5 linked regions of the Homo sapiens genome follow. The protein of the gene in region 1 purifies or fractionates together with the protein of each later gene. This does not show direct contact. Each region holds a gene or a part of one and is shown in the gene's direction. Other genes may lie near its edges. The genes, in order: PPP1R7, DNAAF11, TTLL12, ADISSP and DNAAF10.

Region 1 (4,713 bases):
CGTACTGAGGGGAAGTGTGCTCACAGAGCCCCCACCCTCCTCAGCTGCCTCCAGCTCACCCTGCTCTGCCCCAGTGCGGTGTTCAAGACAAATAAAAGACTTTTTCTCATTCAATTTTACTTGTTTTTTTCTGTTTTGTTAAATTGCCAGCAAATACAACCAGATTGGTCTATAAACATAGTGTTTCAATCTCATTAAAGGCCTTTGTGCCTCAACCCCAGGGCCTAGTTGGCAGCAGTAAATTTCACCAACACCTGCATAAAATTTTGGAAAAATTCAAATTTGCCTGTGGAAAGTTTGGTCACCTTCCTTTGACTTTGCATTGAAATTAAAAGTTTATAAAACTAGCATGCAAACCAAGTGTTCACCTGTGTAGTTTAGAGTGGTAAGTCGAGACGTGCCTGCAGTGGAATGGCGCTGAGGACTGTGTGGCAGGGGCTGGGGTTGGGGCCGGGTGGGGTGCGCAGCAGGGAGCCCTGGTGCCCTCCTGCACCCTGGCCTCCCTGAGCCAAGGCCCTGCAGTCACCACCAAGCATCCACCGGGAGACAGACAATCTGCAGCACAGTTCACATAAGCAGCCAGTCCCAGGAAAACTGGAAAGAAGTGTGGTTCAGAATTTTACCAGTAGAAGTGCTACACTGTGATCTTGGTTAAACACCAGATTATTCTTGGGCCTCTGAAACAAAACAGAAAAAAAAAAATTGTTGTATTAAAGGTAATTACGTTATTGTAATCTTCATCATGATCAAATGTGACAGTCTTTCTTCTGCCATTTTTTTCAACTAAAGATCAGACAAATATTTTCTCCTAAGTTTTGTTTCTTAATTTATCTGGAATTTATTTTTATGGTGGGAAATAAGAAAGTAAATGTAGTTTTGTCCCAGGTGGGAACTTAGACGACACCCCCCATCCCAGTGTCTCACGACTCCTGTCTTGTTCTTCGTGTCTTCTCCAGCTCTGGGCTCTCCCGTTGGTCTAGAATATGTTTGCAGTGGTCCCTGACAGGTGTAGTTTCTGTGGCGTTGTGTCATGCCCTTTGGTGTGCCTGCTCTCCTCACCCTGTTCCATTCTTTTTTTCTGTTTCTTAAGCAGTTCTTACTAGTTTGCTTTTGGATGAGTTTTCACAACATTGTCCAGCTCCTGTAGAAAAACGTGAAATAGTGTTGAGTGCCTACATGGATCCCTGAGCTCAGAGGTGATGGACCGGTTCTGACAGCCAGAGCCCACCACCGGCTCTGCCCCTCGTGCTGAGCCTTGGTGCTTGGACCTCACGAGGCTCAAATCCTGCGTGTGTTCCAGGCCACTTTCATTTTGCCAGTTTCTGGGCTTGCATACCAGATGACCATGAGCATCTCAGAATGGTGCAGAGTGCGGGGGAGAGCTGCCGTCCGTGCTAGAGAGGCCTGTTCCAGCCCCACCGCCAGGCGGTGTGTCGTTGGATTACCCACAGTCGCGTCTTCTGCAACATTTTCCTGCAGTCCTTTTTGCTCTGAACCCGCCCCACTGAGCTCCCTCGCACACTGTTGAGCCTGATACTCTGTGAGCAGACCTGACCAGGGCACCGAGATGGGGTGGTTTGAAGGCACCTCCTAGGCAGCATGCCACGTATAGCCTGCTGGAGAGTGGCGTCAGACTTGACACACGCAGCTGGTGCCAGCTGGGGTGCTGGGCGCCAAGGCAGCAAGGGTGGTACAGCCAGAGGAGCTCCCAGGCCACAGCCATAGCGCTTTCGAATTGGGAAAGCTACTGGCTGGGTACATTTCAGGGGAGATGGGGGGAGGAGTATTTGCTTTTGAGAAATTTTTTAACTTTCCCTTAAAACTTAGAAGGCTTTGGAATTGGAATACCAAAAATGCAGTAGAAAACCAAGGAAGGGACTCAGGAGGGAGCAGAGCGTGAGGGCAGAGAAGGGAATGAACTTTGTCAGAGGTTCTCAGACAGCTTGTAAATGTTTTCCTTTTGATGAGAAACAAAATTATTACTCAGGCTTAGCTAACATGTATTGGAAAGTGAGTAACTGATGTGCATTTTCAGAGTAGAAGATCCTAAAAACACACTCTTGTCTCCCAGTGGGGGCACACACCCTGCAGCAGGTGCTCAGCAGGCCCAGCACCCAGTCCTCAGCATGGGTCCCTTCTCTGCACTTATGCTCCCGGGACCCTTTTCCCAGACAAGAGTGTAGGCCTGGGGTCTGAGAGTCCTGCCTCTCCCACTGCTACTGTGCGCCTGGGCAGATTCTTAGCCCCACTGAGCCCCAAGTTCCTCATCCCTAAATGAAGAGAGGAACTTTGTTTTGAAGATTACTTGGTCGTACATTTCCTCGTGATGAGCACTAAGTAAATGTTTCTACAATTGTCAGCCTTTCTTCAGAGCGTCAGGGGGTTACTCGGTTCTTCCTGGGACCATCAGTCTCACTAGGTCTGTCTCAATGGACAGGGATCTGGGAGGACTGGGCTTGGAGTCTGACACAGTCTCAAATTCCAGCGATCAGGAGAGCTCAGGGAGATAGCTGGGCAGGCTCTGATGGAAACACTGTCCCAGGGAGGGCTGCAGGAAGCAAGCAGGTCTCGTCACCCTCCATAGCATGCCCTTACCCTGTGAGGGCAGAGAGGGCAGTGCACCTGCAGCCCTAAGGTCAGCACTTGACACTGCCTGCGTGGTCATGCAAATCACTGTTGATCAGAGGTAATCCAGGAAACATTTTATTTCCTTCTTTTAGAACAAACTCACGATGTTGGACATTGCATCAAATAGAATCAAAAAGATTGAAAATATCAGCCATCTAACAGAGCTGCAAGAGTTCTGGGTAAGTTTAATACACGCTGGGGTTGATGACACTTTGACTAAACTGGTCTCACTGATTAAAATGTCTTATGAATGAATACAAGAATCTCCTGTAAGCCTTCATGCTGAGTGACTCCGCACATCATGAGATTTGGGGTGGGCGCTCTTGTAGACTTGTATTGGGTGTTGTCTGTGCTCCTCAGCGTGAGCCACAGATCAGCAGCATTGACATAGCTTGTTAGAAATGCAAAATCTTGGGCCCCACCATAGCCCAGATGAAAACTGAGTCAAAATCTTTGCTTTACAAGACTCCGGGTGATTGCAGTACACACAAAGGTTGGAGAAGCCCTGATCTAGGTATGGGTAGAACCTACAATTGTCATTTGACCAAATGGTTTGCAAACCTCAGCAGAGAGGCAGACGCATTCCCTACAGATATATTCCAGCACAACAGAAGGAAATGTTGGATGGGTTTCTGCAGTTAGTCATCTTGGAATTTGCCTTGTATTTGTCTTGTCACAGGTATGGTTTCAGGAGTAGTGTTGTGGAGTCAGCAGGAAGAGAAACAGAATATAAGAAGTTTTTGCAGTTCCTCTAAAGGGGTTGGGAAATGATCCCCGAGTGGAAGTCTTCAGTGCTAGGATTCCCTTAGAGAAATCTCCTAAGGTTTATTGCCTTTCCGCTAGCACGTGGCCCTGCAGAGACTGCGGCACAGGTGTCACCCTGTGATGCTGGGAATGTAGTAGTGTCCTCAGATACATTCAGTCTAATCCAGGATTCATGCTGAGTGTAAGGCATCATTCTTCCTTGTCTCTCCTCTAGCCGTGCTGCTGACCCTGCTTATGTCCTGTGCTTTCTCCTTTCCCCACTTTAAAAGGTCATCCAAGTTTCCCTAGAACACAGGTGGCCTGCTGCAAATGTTCCTTGCCCCTTATTAGTGGCACTGGGTCTTGAGTAGTGTCATGATGGGATACCAGAGCATGTCTGGGAAGATCAGAGCCAGAATTTGGCAGGTGATAAAGATGTACCAGGCCAGGGGGAGCCTCAATGAGTCCAGGTGGGTCTATGTGCAGCCCACCCTTGAAGGAAGGTGTGGCTGGTGGTAGGCTGGTTGAATTAGTGCATAGGGAGTTGGCAAAGAAGCCAGGGAACAACACAAAGAAACCAAACAACAGGAATAAGGAGTCCAGAGACAGAGGACCAGGTGATAGGGAAAGGGCACCTGGCAAAAAATTAGGGAGCAGGTTTGGGAAACGAGCTGATACTGAAGCAATGTTCCTGAAGCGTAACGATTCCTTCTGCATGCCCTGCCTAGGAACAGAGCATGGGGCACAGAGTGCTGAGACCACAGGCAGGGGCCAACCTGGGTACCACAGCTAGCAGGGAGGCAGGCAGGCTGGTGATCAATCACTAGGGGCCAGGTAGTGCCTGACCCTGTAACACAGAAGAATCCTGTTCCTTAGGCCACCAAAGATAGTAAAAAATAGCCAGAATTTGCACAGCGCTTTATGGTGTCCATACCTCTCTCCATTCTGATCCAATTATCACAGCAACCATGTGGATAAGGTCATATTACCCCATTTTACAGGTAAAGAATTGCATTCCAGGAAGGAAAGCTGCAAACCAGGAATTCTCAAACTCAGTTCCATGCTCATATCACATTTGAGAGGCACATCATTCATCTCTAAGGCAGAAATAGAAAACCAGTCTTAACAAGTTTCTGATAACCCACATACTATGTTTGTTGATTTTTCTGCCTATTTGTTCCAATTACTGAGAGGAGAATGTTGAAACCTTCCAACTATAATTGTCAATGGATCCATTTCTCCTTTCAGTTCCATCAGTTTTTGTTTCTTGTATTTTGAAAGTCTGTTATCAGGTGCATACATATTTAGAATTGAGGAATTCTTGATGAATTGATCCATTTA
Region 2 (4,713 bases), on another chromosome or scaffold:
GTCCTCTTTTGCTGTGCCACAAACCCTTTTTACATGTTCTCTCTCCCCCGTGCTTCCCAATAAATGGCCTTCTGCCTCTTGCTAACATCTCCTGACTGCTCCTGTGTGCCCTTTTTTCCGCTGCCTTTCCTGTATTTTCCAAAAAAAGACGCAGGGATGTCATTAGTACAGGTTTTAGAGAGACCGTGCTCGAGAGTTCATCTAGTGTACCTGTTCATTTTAGAGATGAGGAGGGGAACATTGATTCAGCCAGTGTCACATCCCGTCAGTCAGGAGAGACGTCGAACCTAGGATACGAGCTTCCCGGCTTTCGCGGCTCTTTCCACAATTCTCAACCTCCTTCAACTAAAGGAGAAATTTGGGCTCCTGAGAAAGGATGATAATAATAGCTCACTCACAGTTATTGAGCTGCTTATTGCCTTCTAGTCAGTGTTCTGAAAGTTTCTCTGTGTGTGTACTCATTGAATTCTCACAAAAATCTTTTGAGGTAGACACTAGTATCATCACCTCCATTTTGCAGATGAGGAATCTGGAGCACAAAGAGGTTAAGCAGCGTGCCCAGTGCCACACAGTAAGTGGTATATCTGGGATGGTAAGCAGAGCCCGCACTCTTGTGTATGTTTGCTATATTGTCTCTTAGGAGTAAGAGACAGTTTGGTGAGAAAAGGAGAGGTCATGGTGCAAATTCTCATGTAAAGTTGAAGAGACCACTATTTTTGATGTTTGTGTCTGCTCAGGAGGACCAATATTGAGCCTGGGGATGGTGGCAAGAGGAAAATGAATTAGTTCCTCTCTGTGCATTTAATCTGGTGTGTGTTGTGATTTAGAGAAGATCTAGTGTCTTTATTCTTAAATTTTATACTATTGAATGCATTTTGTATTACTGGGACACATTTGTCATCTATAGATCTTCTTTGGTGAAATGTCTTCAAATATTTTGCCCATTTTATACATTGATTTGTTTTCTTATCCTTGAGTTTTAAGAGTCTTCTATATATTCTGGATATAGGTCATCAGATACATGATTTGCAAGTATTTTCTCCCCACCTATGGCTTATATTTTCCTTCTCTTAATTATTTTGAAAGAGAAGATTTAAATTTTGAAGTTTAATTTATTATTTTATAGATCTTGCTTTTGATGTCATATCCAAGAAATCTTTGCTAAGTTTACATAGATTTTTCTCTTTTTTTTCCTAGAAATTTTATAATTTTTGGTTTTATGCTATTCCATCATTCATTTGACTCAATTTTTGTATATGATGTGAGATGTAGATTACATTGTTGTTGTGTGTGTTTTTTTTTTTAATATGGAAATCCAGTAGTACCAGCCCCACTTGTTGAGGACTATGCTCTCTCCATTGAATTGAACCTTTGGATAAACCAGTGGCTTGTATATGTGTGTTCTCGACTTTCTTTTCTGATTCATTGATTTATTTGTCTTCCTCTGTGCCAATTTCACACTGTCTTGATTACTGGAGCTTTGTAATAAGTAGTCTTGAAATCCAGTAGTGTTTTTCCTCTAAATTTTTTAATCTTTTAAAGTTGTATTCAGATCCTTTACATTTCTATATGAATTTCAGTAGTATCTTGTCAATTTGTACAAAAATAAGTCTGCTGGGATTTTGACCTGAATTGTGTTAAATCTGTAGCTCGATTTGGGGAGAATGAGTATCTTAACAATATTGAATCTTCTGACCCAAAAACAAGGGATATATCTCCATTTATTTAGATATTACAAAATGTCTACAATATTTTTGAAGTTTTCAATGGACAGACTTTGCACATATTTTTCTGATTTATCTCTAAGTACTTCATATTTTTGATGCCATTGTAAGTGTTGAGTATATAGAAGTATACTTGATTTTTTCATATAGATCTTATATTCTGCAATCTTTTCAAACTTTCTTATTCAATTAGCTTTTTATATGAATTCCATTTGATATTCTCTGTAGACAGTCATATCATCTGCAAATAGAAATAATTCTACTTCTCTACCACCTGGATGCCTTGTTTTTCCTTGCCTATTGCTAGAACCTTCAGTATAATGTTGAAGTGGTGAGAACAGATTTCCTGGCCTTTTTTTCTGATTCTTACGGGAAGAGTCTTTCTCTGCTCGATATAATGTTGATTATAGGTGTTTTGTGGATGCTCCTTGTCAAGTTGAGTTCCTTTTTATTTCTGGTTTTCCGAGTTGTTGTCTTTTTAAAATTGGGAATGGATGGTGGATTTTGTCAACTGCTGTTTTGTCTCTACTGACATTATCACTTTGTTAGTTTATTAATATTGTATGTTACTTGGATTTCTGAGCATTATATCAACCTCGTATACATTGGATAACTCCCCCCTTGGTTATAATGTATAATTTTTTTATTATGTTGTTGGATTTGATTTGCAAAATTTTTTTGCTTAGGATTTTTACATATGTGTTCATGAGGTACATGGATCTGTAGTTTTCTTTTCTTGTAATGCATTTGATTGGTTGTAATTCTGACCTTATAGAATATAATGGGAAGTATTATTTCCTCTTCAATTTTCTACAAGAGTTTGTGTATATGGGGTATTATTTTCCCTTAAGTTTTTGGTAGAATTAATCAAAGGAGACATCTGTGCCATAGTTTTATTTGTGGAAAGAAAGGTTTTTAACTACATATCCAGTAGATATAGGGCTGTTCAGCTCATCTATATATTCTTGAGTGAGCTTTTGTAATTTGTGTCTTTTAAGGGATTCACCCGTTTAATTGATGTTCTTGAATTTATTGGCATAAAGTTACCTATAATATCTGTAGAATACATATGATGTTACCTCTCTCACTCCTAATATTGGCAGTTTGTGTCTTCTCTCTTTTTTGCTGATAAGTCTGACTGAAAGTTTACCAATTTTATTTTCTTAAAGAGCCAGCTTTAATTTTTATTAATTTTTCTCTATTTTTTTCTGCTTTTCATTTCATTGATTTCTGTTATAATCTTCATTATTTACTTTCTTCTGCTTATTTTGGGTTTAATTTGTTCTTTTTCTAGATCCTTAAAGTGGAAGCCAATATTTGAGACCTTTCTTTATTCCTACTATAAGTATTTAATGCTATAAATTTACCTCTAAGTAATGTTTTAGCTGTATCCTGCAAATTTTGATATGTTGCTTTTCTGTGTAATTTTTTTTTTTTTTTTTTTTTTTTTGAGACGGAGTCTTGCTCTGTCACCCAGGCTGGAGTGCAGTGGCACGATCTCAGCTTACTGCAAGCTCTGCCTCCTGGGTTCACGCCATTCTCCTGCCTCAGCCTCCTTGTAATTTTTAACTCTGTTCAAAATACTTTCTAATTTTCCTTTTTATTTCCTTATGCCCAAATTTAAAAAATTACTTTTGTATGTTTTGTATAGATTTTTAGGCTAGAGGGTAAACCCTGTTTTATTACTCTATTATGTCCAGAACCTGACGTCACTGCTAATCTTATGATGAAGTACTGGTCCTAGCCCTCAGCTTTCTCTGTCCTCTGGTTTCAGGAAATGAAAACCTCTTCATAGTGCTCCCAGTCCAGTCCTCTGGTTTCACACTTCCTCTCTCAGCCTTTCCTGATCAGTTGTGTTTAGCAGCAGCCTTTATACAATACAATATAATTGTCCTTTAAGTTACAGTTTCTCTCACATTTCTCTAACACCTGACATGTTACACTTACTAGTACATTCCCTTCCACTTGTATCCTATCTCTGTTCAACACCAGTGCAAGTCTTTACAATTGCATAACTGCCTTGGGCCAGGCACTATCTATGTTCTGCCTACCAGGAATAACAGTGTCCTTGCCACTGTGACAACATGTAGTCTGACTCCAAAATCCTATCTTAGCTAGCATCTGCTTTCATGCACCACTTCTGGTATCAACTCTTCCAGTTTAGGCTCCTCAGGAAGCCGATATCTAGGTGGGAATTAGCATGCAGGAGGTTTATTAGGGAGCATTGTTGGGGTGGGTAGGAAAGAAATCAAAATTGAGCAGAGGGGGAAGTTGGGCTGTGATATGTCTAACAAAGGCCTTAGGAAACCAACCAGGAGATCTAAACTTGGAATGAACCTTCTGACTTGCCCAAGTTGGGGTGAAGAACTGGGCCTTTATAGCCCCTACATCAACCAGTCATTGAATGTGGACTTTCCCAGGAAAGGAAAGGCCATGACCTTGGCTGAACAATCTCTTCGCTGAGACAGCTCATGAAGAAGGTGGGCAGCAGAGGGCTGTCTGTCAACAGAGCCCCCAGCAGCTAGAGGAATTAATCCTTCAGTTTTGAAGAGGGACCTGAGAAGTGCATCATGTCATCCACGATGGCCTAAGGTGCCCTTTCCTGGTTTATCTAACAAACATCTACTCACATTTCAAGATTCAGCTCAGGGCCGGGCGCGGTGGCTCAAGCCTGTAATTCCAGCCCTTTGGGAGGCTGAGGGGGGTGGAACATGAGGTCAAGAGATCGAGACCATCCTGGCTAACACGGTGAAACCCCGTCTCTATTAAAAATACAAAAAAAAAATTAGCCAGGCGTGGTGGCAGGTGCCTGTAGTCCCAGCTACTGGGGAGTCTGAGGCAGGAGAATGGCGTGAACCCGGGAGGCAGAGCTTGCAGTGAGCCAAGATCGCGCCACTGGGCGACAGAGCGAGACTCTGTCTCAAAGAAAAAAAAAAAGATTCAGCTCAGACTCCTCCTCCATGAAGCTTCTTCTGACTTCCTTTTTCTC
Region 3 (4,713 bases), on another chromosome or scaffold:
GTCCTCTCCACCGCAGCGCAGCTGCCTGGCCTCTGGCAAACCCCTCCTTGTTTCCCATGCCCCTGCCTCTGACAGCTCTCTGGTGCCCCCTCAGCTCCCAAGGAGAAGTGGGCTGCCCTCTTCTGCCTCTGGGTCCTGGGGTGGCACCATCTGGGAACACAGGCCCCAGGCGCCCCCCAGACAGCCCTTCTGCTCCCCAGGGGCGAGGACAACCACTGGATCTGCAAGCCCTGGAACCTGGCGCGCAGCCTGGACACCCACGTCACCAAGAGCCTGCACAGCATCATCCGGCACCGAGAGAGCACCCCCAAGGTGGGCCCCGCAGACCAGGAGCCCCAGGGCTCAGGGCCCTGGCTGGACAGTGAGAGGTGGGGCTAAGGGGACCGAGCATCATGGTCCTTATGGACAGGTCCAGGCTGGGCAGGGTGGCTTACACCTGTAATCTCAGCACTCTGGGAAGTGGAGGAGGATCACTTGAGCCCAGAAGTTTGGAACCAACCTGAGCAACATAGGGAGACCTCGTTTCTACAAGGGAAAAAACTTTAAAAATTATCTGGGCATGTTGGCACACACCTGTAGTCCCAGCTTCTCAGGAGGCTAAGGCAGGAGGATCACTTGAGCCCGGGAGGTTGAGGCTGCAGTGAGCTGTGATCGCGTCACTGCACTCCGCCCTGGGCGACAGAGCAAGACCCAGTCTTTAAAAAAAGAACTGTCCTGGGTGCGTCTAATCGCAAAGTTCCTACCACATAGTGTGCCAGGTATGGCTGCCCAGCAGGGTGAGGTGGCTGAGCCTGGACAAGGAGCCTCTCAGAGCCGTGGTAAAGATTCATAGTGAGGGGACATCCAGAAGCAGTATTGGGATTGCAGGACACAGGATCTGCCTGGACTGTGTACATAGTCAGAGGCTGGCGGGAAATGCATCATGAGGACGATTGTCGTGGAGACTTCAGGCCATGGGATGGGGGTGGATGGAATTATGGGTGAGAATTTATATTTCATTTCAATTAAAAATGGATATAAAGACTTTGCTTCAGGGTGCGGTGGCTCACACCTGTAATCCCAGCACTTTGGGAGGCCAAGGTGGGCGGATCACCTGAGGTCAAGAGTTCGAAACCAGCCTGGCCAACATGGAGAAACCCCTTCTCTACTAAAAATACAGAAATTAGCTGGGGGTGGTGGCGGGCACCTGTAATCCCAGCTACTCAGGAGGCTGAGGCAGGAGAATCGCTTGAACCCGGGAGGCAGAGGTTGCAGTGAGCCAACATTGTGCCACCGCACTCCAGCTTGGGCAACAGAACAAAACTCTGTCTCAAAAAAAAAAAAAAGACTTTGCAGCAACTTAGGCAGGTTTGAAAAGGCAGAAGGAGGAGTAAAGTGCAGCCATGTCTGTGCCCCCTGCGTGGCTTTGTGTGCTCGGGAGCCCCAGGGGGCTCTGTCCTGGCCACCAGCGAGCTTGCACCTGTGTCCTCCAGGTTGTGTCCAAGTACATCGAAAGTCCCGTGTTGTTCCTTCGAGAAGACGTGGGAAAGGTCAAGTTCGACATCCGCTACATCGTGCTGCTGCGGTCAGTGAGGCCCCTACGGTTGTTCGTGTATGATGTGTTCTGGCTGCGGTTCTCCAACCGGTAAGTGGAGGGCCGGCTGGGTCCAGGGTCGGGGAGCTGGGTGACCGGGTGGAGGTAGCGGGTGGGTGATGGGCCCTTTTTGGAATCAGAAAATGTTGTTGGAAGGCACCCTCCATCACTCACCCAGCTAGCGGCCCTTGGAGCCCATCTCCCTTGGTGTTAATTGGCGGTGACTTGCCCTGCCCACCTCAGAGTTCTGGTGTTGCCCACAGTAATGGATGTGAACATTCTTTGTAAAATGGGCACCAACATGAGAACCAGGTGCCATTTTTATGGACCTGCAGAGGCTTCACAGCTAGCACCTCACTCACCTCCACCCCAGCTCAGTGGGGCTGTGGGGCTCCCCCAGCCACACAGACAAGGGAACAGGCTCCCGCCTGAGCAGCAGGTGGTCCTGCCCTGAGCCCTGAACCCCTAGTTGGGAAGGCTGAGTGGGTGGCACCTCCCTCGCAGGGACAAGGCCGCTCAAGAACCCATATGTGTCTGCACACTTGTCTTCCAGGGCCTTTGCACTCAACGACCTGGATGACTACGAGAAGCACTTCACGGTCATGAACTATGACCCGGATGTGGTGCTGAAGCAGGTAGGGCCTGAGGGAGGTGCAGAGCAGGTTCACACAGAGGCCAGGGCACACCCGACCCCACCCCGCCCACACTGCCTCCTAGGAGGACTGGCACACAGGCCAGTCCCAGGAGCCGCCTCCTGAGTTCCTGCTATGGAAGGCGATTGTTAGCGCTGCCATCATGAGCCAGGCTGGGTTCTGTGTTGTCTCAGGTAGGTCTCCCCACGGCACAGAGGGCCACTGGCTGTGTTTGAGATAATGTGGACACAGAGGGGGATGGGTCCAGCAGCAGGTTGAGACAGTGTGTTCCCAGCCGGGGCTTACTCCTCACCACCACTTCAACCGGAAAAGCAGACCACCCTGTGAGTGCCAGGGCAGGCGGGGGCGGGGAGGCCCCACCTGGTCCGGCTGGCTGCTGGCCCGTGACCCTGCCCGGGTCTAGGACCTCCTGTCCTCCCTGGTGCACAGTGTTGAGCGGTGCCCCATGCAGTGGGCACTCAGTGAATGGCAGCTGCACCATCTGAGCACCTGGAGCTCAGGGGCATCTGGACAAAGGCCCTTCCAAGGTGGGGGCGAGAAACCAGAGCTGGCCAGCCAGTGTACGTGGACAGGTAGGCACAGCCTGCACAGAAGCAGGAGGCCAGCTCTGGGTACAGGAAGGAAGAAAGGAAGTCCTGGAAGGCCTCTGTGGCCTGGCTGGTTAATGAGTGTTTCAGATGCACAGAACACCTACCCCACCCTGCCTGTCGCCAGCCTTGCAGGTGCCGCGGACTCCCCATGCAGCCAGCCCCAACGCTCCCCGACCCCTGAACGTGTGGCTGTCATTCCCAGGCATGTCTTTGGTTCTTTTCAGCAGGAGTATGTTCCTGACCATTCAAGCTGCTGTTTTGCTTACTTAGGTTTTTTGTTTTGTTTTGTTTTTTTGAGAGACAATGTCTCACGCTGTCACCCAGGCTGGAGTGCGGAGGCATGATCTGGGCTCACTGCAACCTCAATCTCCTGGGCCCAAGCCATCCTTCTGCCTCAGCCCCCTAAAGTAGCTGGGACTACGGGCACGTGCCTCCACGCCCGGCTAATTTTTTTGTATTTTTAGTAGAGACGGGGTTTCGCCATGTTGCCCAGGCTTGTCTGAAACTCCTGGACTCAAGCGCTCCGCCTGCCTCAGCCTCCTAAAGTGCTGGGATTACAGGCGTGAGCCACCATGCCCGGCCTCCTACTTAGGTTTTTATGTAAATATCATCTTATTCAACGGATCCTTCTGCAGCTTGCTTTGTTGGCTGAGTGGCGTGTTTTGAGGTTTTGAGGTTCGGGCTTGTTGCTAACTGTGGCGGCGATTGGTCATCTGAGGTCTTCACTAATGATAAATCATGGCGCGTGAACATGCGTGGAGGCACCTGGCCATGCCCATGTCCGAGGAGTCCTCTAGGAGGACTTGGAGAAAGGGCCCTGCCATGCACTGGTGACTATACCAGCACACACTCCCCACAGGGGCCGAGTGGTCCTGTTGCTTCTGTCTGTCTTATCCTTGCCTGTGTTGAAGCCTACTCCCTAGGACCCAGACCCCCCAGCAGGGCCCCAGGACATTGTTGGAAGTCGCCCTCAGGTTCTGAGCCCCTCCCTTCTGTACTGTGGGGGTCATCCCGGGAGTCCTCTCCTGGAGCTCTGTGCCTGGGGAGGTACGTCCAGCATGGCATGGATGGCGGGCTTCCATAGGGGCCTTTCCTGGCTTGTTCTTTTCTGGGAGAAACCTGAGCCGACTGCCACCTTCCTCGGGTGTGTTTTGGGTAAAGTCTTGAGGCCAGAAAGATCTTGCATCCCTCAAGCACTCTTGAGCTGGTGCTGAACCAGGGCACAGGCAGGTCCCGCGGCGGAGTCTTGAGCTCTGCCTCCTTCGCACTGTACTGAGCTGAGTGTGAGGATGGTGCCAGCCCAGGCCCTGCAGTTTCTGGAGCCCTCGATGTTCATTGTCTCGCGTGAGCCTCACAGCTGCGTGGCAAAGTCAGTTTACTGGGCAGAGCACATTTTCCCATTTCACAGAGGAGGAAACAGGCTCAGAGAAGTTAATCCGTTGGTCCAGAGTCACACAGTAAGACCTGGAGCCCAGACTCCATCTCCTGCCTCCTGTTTGGACCCTGAGGGTTCGGGGTTGGCTGCCTGCTCCTGGAACCCCCACCCAGTGTCAGAAGCTCCTGGTCCAGGCAGTAGCAGGCTGCCTGCTCCCGGCCCAGCGGAGGCCTGTACAGAGCGTGATGGGCCCTGTGTCTGTTGCAGGTGCACTGTGAAGAGTTCATCCCCGAGTTTGAGAAGCAATACCCAGAATTTCCCTGGACGGACGTCCAGGTAATTCCTGTCCTGCACACCATCGCAGGCCGGTGGGGCGGGTCCCGGGCTGGGGGCCTGCAGGAGCTGCTCCCTTCCCTCTCTGCTGGCATGGGCTGGGAGGGACCTTTGTCCCCTGCAGTTGGTCATTCTCCCCAGAGGCTGGCAAGACAGCGTGGGCTCCCCTCCCTTCCACCCTGGGCATTT
Region 4 (3,586 bases), on another chromosome or scaffold:
GGATCCCACAGCCACGTCCACTTTGATGAGAAGCTGCATGACTCGGTGGTCATGGTCACCCAGGAGAGTGACAGCAGCTTTCTGGTCAAGGTACATGCACACCTACCCCATCAGCAGCTTCTTCCCCTCCCCGGCTCTGCCTGGCTTCTGGGTGCCTATCCCCGTTCCTCTCAGCCGGGCTTATAGGCATGTCTGTGCCTTTCCCTGTGCCTTGGTTGCCCCATCTGTCAGATGGGAGGCAGTGAGATTTCAATGAGATGAGAGCATTTAGAATGTCATCCAGATCAAGATGAGCAGAGCCACTGCTGTCATCTGCTTCACCCAGACAATAGCAATGGAAGGCAGTGTCGTGGCTGTGGTGCCAGTGGCCTGAGTTCAGGTCTAGGCCAGCCATTCTGGCTCTGTGACCTTGGGAAGGTCACCTGAGTTTCTTTTCTCTCAAGTGGAGACAATCACATCCCCTAGAGTTGGTGTGAGAATGGAAGAATGTATGTATGTGATACAGGTGTGAAGCTAACTATGGCAATAACAAGGTGCAACTTTTTTTTTAACCCTTCTTTGCCAAATCTCTGGCTCAGTTAGGCTCTTTGAAGTAGTATTATCACCCCCTGTTTTCTGCTTGGTGGAGCTGGATTGGGGAAAATGGAGACTGAGGCCTTCAGGTTGGTCAATAAATCAGGGGTCCAGAGTTGAACAGGAGTGCCCTTGGGTCGGGGGAGGTCTGGCCCATTGAGATGGCCCTGAGTGGGGGGTCTGCTGCGCTGCTCAAAAGGGGCCCAGGTTTAGCCTGGCCAATGGGTCGAAACCCGTCTCTACTAAAAATACAAAAGTTAGCTGAGCGTGGTGGCGCACGCCTGTAGTCCCAGCTACTTGGGAGGCTGAGGCAGAAGAATTGCTTGAACCCAGGAGGCTGAGGTTGCAGTGAGCTGAGATTGTGCCACTGCACTCCAGCCTGGGCAACAGAAAGACTCTGTCTCAAACAAACAAACAAAAAAGAACCTGGGGGGCCCAGGTTTGTATCCATTTCTGTCCAACTCTGAAGTTCCCACTCTTTGTCCTACAGCTGACAGCTTCCCCAAGAGAGTAAATGGAACAAACCAACACTTAAAAATAGCTCTCTCCCCTCATTGCAAAATCCACTCATGTCTTAATAGACATGAGAAAATTTGGAAGACAGAGAAAATATGAAGAAATTTAAAAGTACCCACAGTCATACTATCCCAAAATAACCATGGTTAATATTCTGATGTGTGTTATTTCAGCTTTTTTTTTTCTTTTTGAGACGGAGTCTTGCTGTCTCCAGGCTGGAGTACAGTGGCGCCATCTCAGCTCACTGCAACCTCCAGCTCCCAGGTTCAAGCAATTCTCCTGCCTCAGCCTCCAGAGTAGCTGGGATTACAGGCGCGTGCCACCACTCTCAGCTAATTTTTTATATTTTTAGTAGAGACGGGGTTTCACTCTGTTGGCCAGGATGGTCTCGATCTCCTGACCTCGTGATCCGTCCGTGTCGGCCTCCCAAAGTGCTGGGATTACAGGCGTGAGCCACCACACCTGGCTTATTCCAGCTTTTTAAAATGTTATTTATTTATTTATTTATTTTTCTGAAAACACTATGGTGATGGATCCAGCTTATTTTAAAAAGCTTTGTTTCCAAAAACAAAAGCTGGCCTCACCGTGTCCACACTGGTTTTTGCTTGCTTCTGTTGTGAACTGTCTCCTACCTGTGTCAGTAAATAATTTTCCACGAGATTTTACAACTGCCTACTGGTCCATGATACGTGTCATCATTGACTTAGCTGGCTCCCTGTTCCTGGGTGTTACGGCTGTTTTTGTTTTCATTGTTATAAATAGGGCAGCGAAGAGTATTTTTCTGCACATCTCTATTTCCCCTGGAAAATTCTATAAGTAGTACCCCTGGGTCACAGGGTCACAGTTAGCAGGTACAGCCAGAAAGCCTTCTTGAGGGATGTGCCCCCTACCAGCAGAGCATGAGGGGGGCACATGGATTGAAGTTTGTCATGTAGCAATATCAACCTGGTCCCATTGAATGGCTAAAACTCTCTGCAGCCAGTCCCAGTTGGCCCCCAGGGATGGGGCTGCCCAGCCCCAGTAACTGTGAGCAGGACTCTGTGTGCCCATGCAAGCTGGGAGTACAGCAGGCACCCTTTGCCTGCTGGCGTGGCACCCCCACCAGCCCCCCTGCTCAGCAACCACCCTGGCTTGTGACCCTTCATACTACTGGAGTTTCCAAGAATGGCATTTGTCCCAGAGGGTGGTTGTCACCAAGCACTGTGAATGAACAACAGAAATTGCTTGGGTCGTGAGTATGGGCCATTGGACACAGCCTTTGAGTGGGCAGGCAGGCATCCCCAGTCCAGTGCCAGCAGGGCAGCCAGGAGCCCCAGTTCAGTGGCTGGTGCCAGGCCTGTGGGCCAGCTCTGGGCTGACACAGCTGGTCTACTGTCATATCTCTAATTTGATCCCATCCCTCATCCCACGCTATCTGTGGCCTGGTGTCATCCTATGAGCGAATGGAGGACCAGCATCCCTGACCCTGGGATACTGGCAGTGATGGGGACAGGTGAATGACCCATGGGACTTTGAACTTTCCCTTGTAGGCAGTGGGTGGTGCCTTGCTGGGTGCCATGCATAGCAGGAATGGCCAAGAAGTCTAGGGAGGACTTGACCCTGGCCACACTACATAGCCTTTGGCCAGTCATTTTGTGGTTTCCATTTTCCTGTCTATGAAATGAGCCACTGAGGACTTTGGGGCCCGTGAGACAGATGCTGAGGATCTTGCTGGCCAAGCTGTAGGGCTGGGACCCTCAAGGGGTCTGTGAAAGGGCTGGGGCCACTGGGCTGGGGGTCGATCAGCTGGAGTGATGGAGGGAGTTGGGCTTTCTGGGCTCTCTGGGGAAGCAGGTGCTGGGGCGCATGGGATCATAGGTGGCACAACTGGGTGGGCCTGCGGGAAGCAGGAAGTGAAGGTGCCTCCCTCCCTCACCTCTCCTGCTGTAGGTTGGCTTCCTGAAGATCCTGCACAGGTATGAGATTACCTTCACTCTGCCCCCAGTGCACAGGCTGAGCAAGGATGTCCGCGAGGCACCTGTCCCCAGCCTGCACCTCAAGCTCCTCAGCGTGGTGCCCGTCCCTGAAGGTGCGTCCCCTCCTCCAGCAGGGCCTGGATGGGTGTGGGAGTGAGAACATGGGGTGCTCCCTTACTTCCAACTAGGGTGGATGGGCAGCTCAGCAAGTCGGGGATGTGGCACCTCTTTGTGAGCTTGCACTGTGGCAGCATGGCAGGTCCCACACTCCAGGCCTTGCTCCCTGTCCTGAACAGAAGTCCATGAGCTCATACTTCCCTGTACCTGCCCATGGTGTGATGGTTACCTCCGTGGGGCAGTAACCAAGATGGGAGCTGCTGAGGAACTGGTTTGAAGCCTCCAGCCTTCCCTCCTGCCTCCCTAACCCTCTAGAAAAACCTGCTGGAGCTACACACACCGTGTGGATAACTCCTAGCACCCACCAGTCCCAGACCTTGGGTTTCAGGCTGCTGTTCCTATCAGGCTCACTTCAGGCCCTGCCC
Region 5 (4,713 bases), about 170 Mb from region 1:
CAGCAGTACATCCTCTCTGAGTAAAAAATCCCCTTCAGTCACCTTGACTCCCTAAATCTAACAGTCTTGCTGCTACTTTTTTAACAGACAAGTTTGATTGCTTATCTCTCGATTGTTTCAGACTTTTGGCTATTTTGAGATAGATTCATAGCACTTATTAACACTATTTTAGTGTTGAGCTGGTTCAGCTACTAACAATGATGGTTTCCTCTGAACCTTGAAGGATTTAAAATGTCTTTACAGGTTTTTGAGGCAGCTGACGATATAATGTGGGTGGCAGCTTTTCATTTTCTTTTTTTAAAAGGCAGAATTAGTACTTGTGAAAATTGTCATATTGACAGCTGCTTGAAAACTGAAGTTCTGTGATCCATCCACTAAGCATTATAGAGAGTTCCAAAGGCACCAACTCAGCTCTTCCACCCTGCAGTGACCAACAAGGGCCAGGTCTTTTGGTGTCCGAAGTGGTACTGCATGACTTTAATAGAGTCAGAAATGTTGTTGCTTCACGAGGGGTACATGAGAAATTTGGTACCTATTATAATTGATTTGGCTAGTTGTTTAATGGCCGCTCAAGACCATGAGGAAATTGCTTTAAAGGAAAAGTGAGATATAATTTTCTAGTGGGTACTCAAGAGCAGCTGTGTTTTAGAAATCACTTATTTTTTTTAATCATAAAAGCAATATTGAGTATAGAGGGAAAAATAACATTCAGTCTACCACACTACCACAACCATTAGATTTTTCTTTTCCTTTTAGGTCTTATATATAATTTTGCATAGTTATAAGTGTGAATATGAATTTGTATCTTAGAAACTTTTTTTATTTAATGTTTTGTCATATGCAAATGTTGCTGTTTCCACAGTTATCATTTTAATGACTATATAATATTCCATCATATGGCCGTACTTAACCATTCCCTTATAAGCCTTTGGTTTGCTTTTTTTATTTGTTGTCTTATGAGAGTGGCTTAAAAATAATGAGTAAATGAGTATTGTCATATGTGTAACTCTTTTGGAATAAATATATTTTATGATTTTTTAAAAAATTTATTGGGCCAGGTACAGTCACGCCTATAATCCCACAACTTTGGGGGCTGAGGCGGGCGGATAACTTGAGACCAGGAGTTTGAGACCAGCCTGGGCAACATAGCGAAACCCTGTCTCTTCTAAAATACAAAAATTAGCCAGGTGTGGTGGCACACACCTGTAATCACAGCTACTCAGGAGGCTGAGACACAAGTTTTGCTTGAACCTGGCAGTGGGAGGTTGAAGTGGGCTGAGATCTTATCAATTTGTATGAATCCTATAGAGAAAGATAATCTCTTATCTCTATATCTGGGATTTTTTTTTTCTTTTTAAAACAGGCTTTTGGTGGGTGCAGTGGCTCATCTCTGTAATCCCAGCACTTGGGAGGCTGAGGTGGGAAGATCACTTGAAACCAGCTTGGGCAACATAGGGAGACCCCATCTTTACAAAAACTAAAAATTAGCCAGGCATGGTGGTATAGTCCCAGCTACTTGGGAGGCTGAGGTAGGAGGATCACTTGGACCCAGGAGGTCAAGGCTACAGTGAACCATGATCGCACGACTGCACTCCATCCTGGGTGACAGAGCAAGACCCTGTCTCTAAATAAATAAATATTAAAGTAAAGCAGCCTTTTAATGATCAACTTTATTTTATCCCTGGAGATAAATCTAATGTTGTACCTCCACCTTTCCTGAGTTGTTTTCCTTTTAAGGATTTTTTTTTTTTTGCCCTTTTCTTATTCTCAGGTACTTGCCTTTTAGCCATTTTATTACATGCATTTGCATTTTTTGTAGGTAGTGACACTATTTTAGTAAGTAGTCCCATAACATGAATTAAAACAAGGGGGTTGAAATTAAATTGAGAATTTGTTAATTTTATTTAACATTTTCCTCTTCACTATTGCCACAGGAAAATTAAACTTAACTGTATATGAAATAGTATTCTAGGCCAGGCACAGTGGCTCACGCCGGTAATCCCAGCACTTTGGGAAGCCCAGGCAGGTGGATCACCTGAGGTCAGGAGTTTGAGACCAGCCTGGCCAACATGGCAATACCCCATTTCTACTAAAAAAGTACAAAATTTAGCTGGGCGTGGTGGTGCATGCCTGTAGTCCCAGCTACTTGGGAGGCTGAGGACGGAGAATCGCTTAAACCCAGGAGGCGGAGGTTGCAGTGAGCCAAGATCACGCCATTGCATTCCTGGGCGACAGAGTGAGACTCCATCTCAAAACAAAAGAAAGAAAGAAAGAAAAAGAAATAGTATTCTAGAACTCACATAAGAAACCATTAATTCAAAATTAGAGTGTATTCATGCCAATGGTTAAAATGGGTAATAAGGAAAAAAGTAAAAATTAAAACAACACTGGTATTTTCCCTAAAAAATAACACATTCATTTTAGGCTCATGATTTGAATTACGTAACATTCACATTTGCCTTGTCAGTCATCACTCGTAGATAACTTAGGAACACTTGTTGGCTTTTCTGTGTGTCTATTAATTTGGAAACCAAGTCAGATAGTTACATATGGGTGATATCTCTGATATTAAATACAACTTACCCAATTAGAAGTCAGAACAATGTGGATATTTTCAGATGTCATAACATCTGTCATATTGCCATGTACACAGGAAGCCATAGAAGAAGAATGTAGAAAAGAAACATAATCATTTACTTTTGAATTTTTGCCAACTCACTTTTATGCATGGCAGGAACTGTGAAGGTGTGGGACCCAAGGCAAAAAGATGATCCTGTTGCTAATATGGAACCTGTACAAGGAGAAAACAAGAGAGACTGTTGGACTGTGGCATTTGGTAAATTATTGAAGAATTCTTGCATTTGAATTATCAGATGGTAAAAAGCACGATGCTGCAAGAAATTTCACAGTAGTCTCTTTATGGTCTGTTTTGTGGATTATTCTAATAGTTTACTGAGGCAAATACACGTGGTGGTTAATGTCAGCCTCTGGGGCCTGAGTTTGAATTCTCACCTGCTACTTATTGGCCATGTGGCCTGGAGCAAGTTACCAAAGTTATCTGTTCCTTGGATGTTTCATTTATAAAATGGAATTAATAATAGAATTTACTTAGTTGTGTTGTCATGAAGAGTCAATGAGTTAATTACATGTAAAGTGCTGAGAATTGTGCTTATTATTATGTGTTCCTGTTTAACTAGATAATATTGACCTAATTTAAAGTCAGACACCATTAATGGGGATAAACCAAGCCTCAAATGCAAACAGTTACCTAACAAATCATACATTACGCTATATACGGAGTATGTTTATTTTCTAGAAAATAGTTTGCCATTACAAAGTTATTTCTTATAAATTTTGATAACTGTATTCCTTCATTAATTTACTTAAAATGAATATTGACTTTGGAAGACTAATTGACATTTGCCCTTTGATATGGTTTGGATCTATGTCCCCACCAAATCTCATGTCCAATTGTAATCCCCAGTGTTGGAGGTGGGGCCTGGTGGGAGGTGATTAATGGGGGCGGAGTTCTCATGAATGGTTTAACACATCCTCCCGTATACTTTAAATCATCTCTAGATTACTTATAATACCTAATATAATATAAATGCTGTGTCAGTCATTGTTGTATTGTTTAGGGAATAATGACAAGCACAAGAAGTCTGTACGTTTTTAGTGTAGATGCAAATTTTTTTCCAAATATTTTCGATCCATTGTTGGTTGCCTATAGATGCAGAACCCATGGATAGGGAGGGCCAACGGTAGAAGAGAGTAATAGTAGGAATATCCTTAGAGATGGCTCAGGACAATGGCCAGAGGTGTTAGGACGGCCTGAAGATAGTTCTAAGTTTTTGATGGTGTTTGCAAGGAAGAGATGAAATCCGAGCTTTAGGAAAATGAACTAGTGGTATTTAGCGGGAGTGATGAGTGGTACAGAGAATATGAGTTCAAGAGCTCTTTGCAGTATTCCAGGGAAGACCTAAGTTACAAGCACTGAGAAGGGAGCAGAGTGGATGATTCAGAAGATAATATTATGCAGAATACATAGAATTTGGGAATGTTTTTGGATATGAAGAACAAAGAAAAGGATAATGTCCAAGATGACTGAGTTTTCAGGCTGATTGTGGGGTGAATGATGGTATTAATTGAAAAAATTATACAAGGGGTGGGATAATTTGTAAAGGAAAATGGTAAGGTCATTTTGGGACATCATGAGTTTAAGATGATGGTGTACCATCTAGGTGGGGCCCACAGTGGAAATGCAGGGCTGGAGTTTATGAGAAAAACGAAGTTAGGGGCAATGAAAGCATTGGGATAGGATGCCCAGATAGCATAGCACAGTGACAGGGGCCTCCTTCTCACTTAACACTCTTTCCTCAGCAAGAGATACTTGGAAAAAAATCCTTGAATTAATTCCAGGAGGATGAGTTTAACCACAGATTATAAACTTACTTCAGGTATGATCATCCACACTACTAAAAATATGTCACAGTGTGCTACAACTTATTTCAGATTTCCTTGTAAAGATGGAATCACACCAGAGCAACATTTTTCAAGATAAATTAGTTTTAAAGTTTCTGTTTGCATTCAAATATAGTTACTGCCAAGAAAGCAATAGAGGTATAACTGTATTTATTCTCTGAGACCCCTTTGTGTTTGAGCTGTAGTTGGCCTGCTAGCCTTTGCAGATATAGTAGAAAGCATTTTCTTTTC

The links.
Region 2: the proteins of PPP1R7 (region 1) and DNAAF11 purify together in Homo sapiens (affinity purification with mass spectrometry; one large-scale study listed by BioGRID and IntAct). This does not show direct contact.
Region 3: the proteins of PPP1R7 (region 1) and TTLL12 fractionate together in Homo sapiens (co-fractionation; one large-scale study listed by BioGRID). This does not show direct contact.
Region 4: the proteins of PPP1R7 (region 1) and ADISSP purify together in Homo sapiens (affinity purification with mass spectrometry; one large-scale study listed by BioGRID and IntAct). This does not show direct contact.
Region 5: the proteins of PPP1R7 (region 1) and DNAAF10 purify together in Homo sapiens (affinity purification with mass spectrometry; one large-scale study listed by BioGRID and IntAct). This does not show direct contact.

What each region holds. Positions count from the first base shown.
Region 1 is NC_000002.12:241,167,061-241,171,773, forward strand, and holds part of PPP1R7 (protein phosphatase 1 regulatory subunit 7), read left to right. Parts: coding exon of another isoform or gene 1-8; exon of another isoform or gene 9-114; intron 115-615; exon of another isoform or gene 616-677; intron 678-2,720; coding exon 2,721-2,807; intron 2,808-4,713. UniProt on the Homo sapiens protein: Regulatory subunit of protein phosphatase 1.
Region 2 is NC_000008.11:132,668,402-132,673,114, reverse strand, and holds part of DNAAF11 (dynein axonemal assembly factor 11), read left to right. Parts: intron 1-4,713. UniProt on the Homo sapiens protein: Involved in dynein arm assembly, is important for expression and transporting outer dynein arm (ODA) proteins from the cytoplasm to the cilia. Acts as a crucial component in the formation and motility of spermatozoal flagella.
Region 3 is NC_000022.11:43,169,314-43,174,026, reverse strand, and holds part of TTLL12 (tubulin--tyrosine ligase-like protein 12), read left to right. Parts: intron 1-200; coding exon 201-312; intron 313-1,472; coding exon 1,473-1,624; intron 1,625-2,126; coding exon 2,127-2,208; intron 2,209-4,458; coding exon 4,459-4,527; intron 4,528-4,713. UniProt on the Homo sapiens protein: Negatively regulates post-translational modifications of tubulin, including detyrosination of the C-terminus and polyglutamylation of glutamate residues. Also, indirectly promotes histone H4 trimethylation at 'Lys-20' (H4K20me3).
Region 4 is NC_000020.11:3,755,040-3,758,625, reverse strand, and holds part of ADISSP (adipose-secreted signaling protein), read left to right. Parts: coding exon 1-90; intron 91-3,018; coding exon 3,019-3,157; intron 3,158-3,586. UniProt on the Homo sapiens protein: Adipocyte-secreted protein (adipokine) that acts as a key regulator for white adipose tissue (WAT) thermogenesis and glucose homeostasis at least in part through activation of protein kinase A (PKA).
Region 5 is NC_000002.12:68,139,817-68,144,529, reverse strand, and holds part of DNAAF10 (dynein axonemal assembly factor 10), read left to right. Parts: intron 1-2,734; coding exon 2,735-2,836; intron 2,837-4,713. UniProt on the Homo sapiens protein: Key assembly factor specifically required for the stability of axonemal dynein heavy chains in cytoplasm.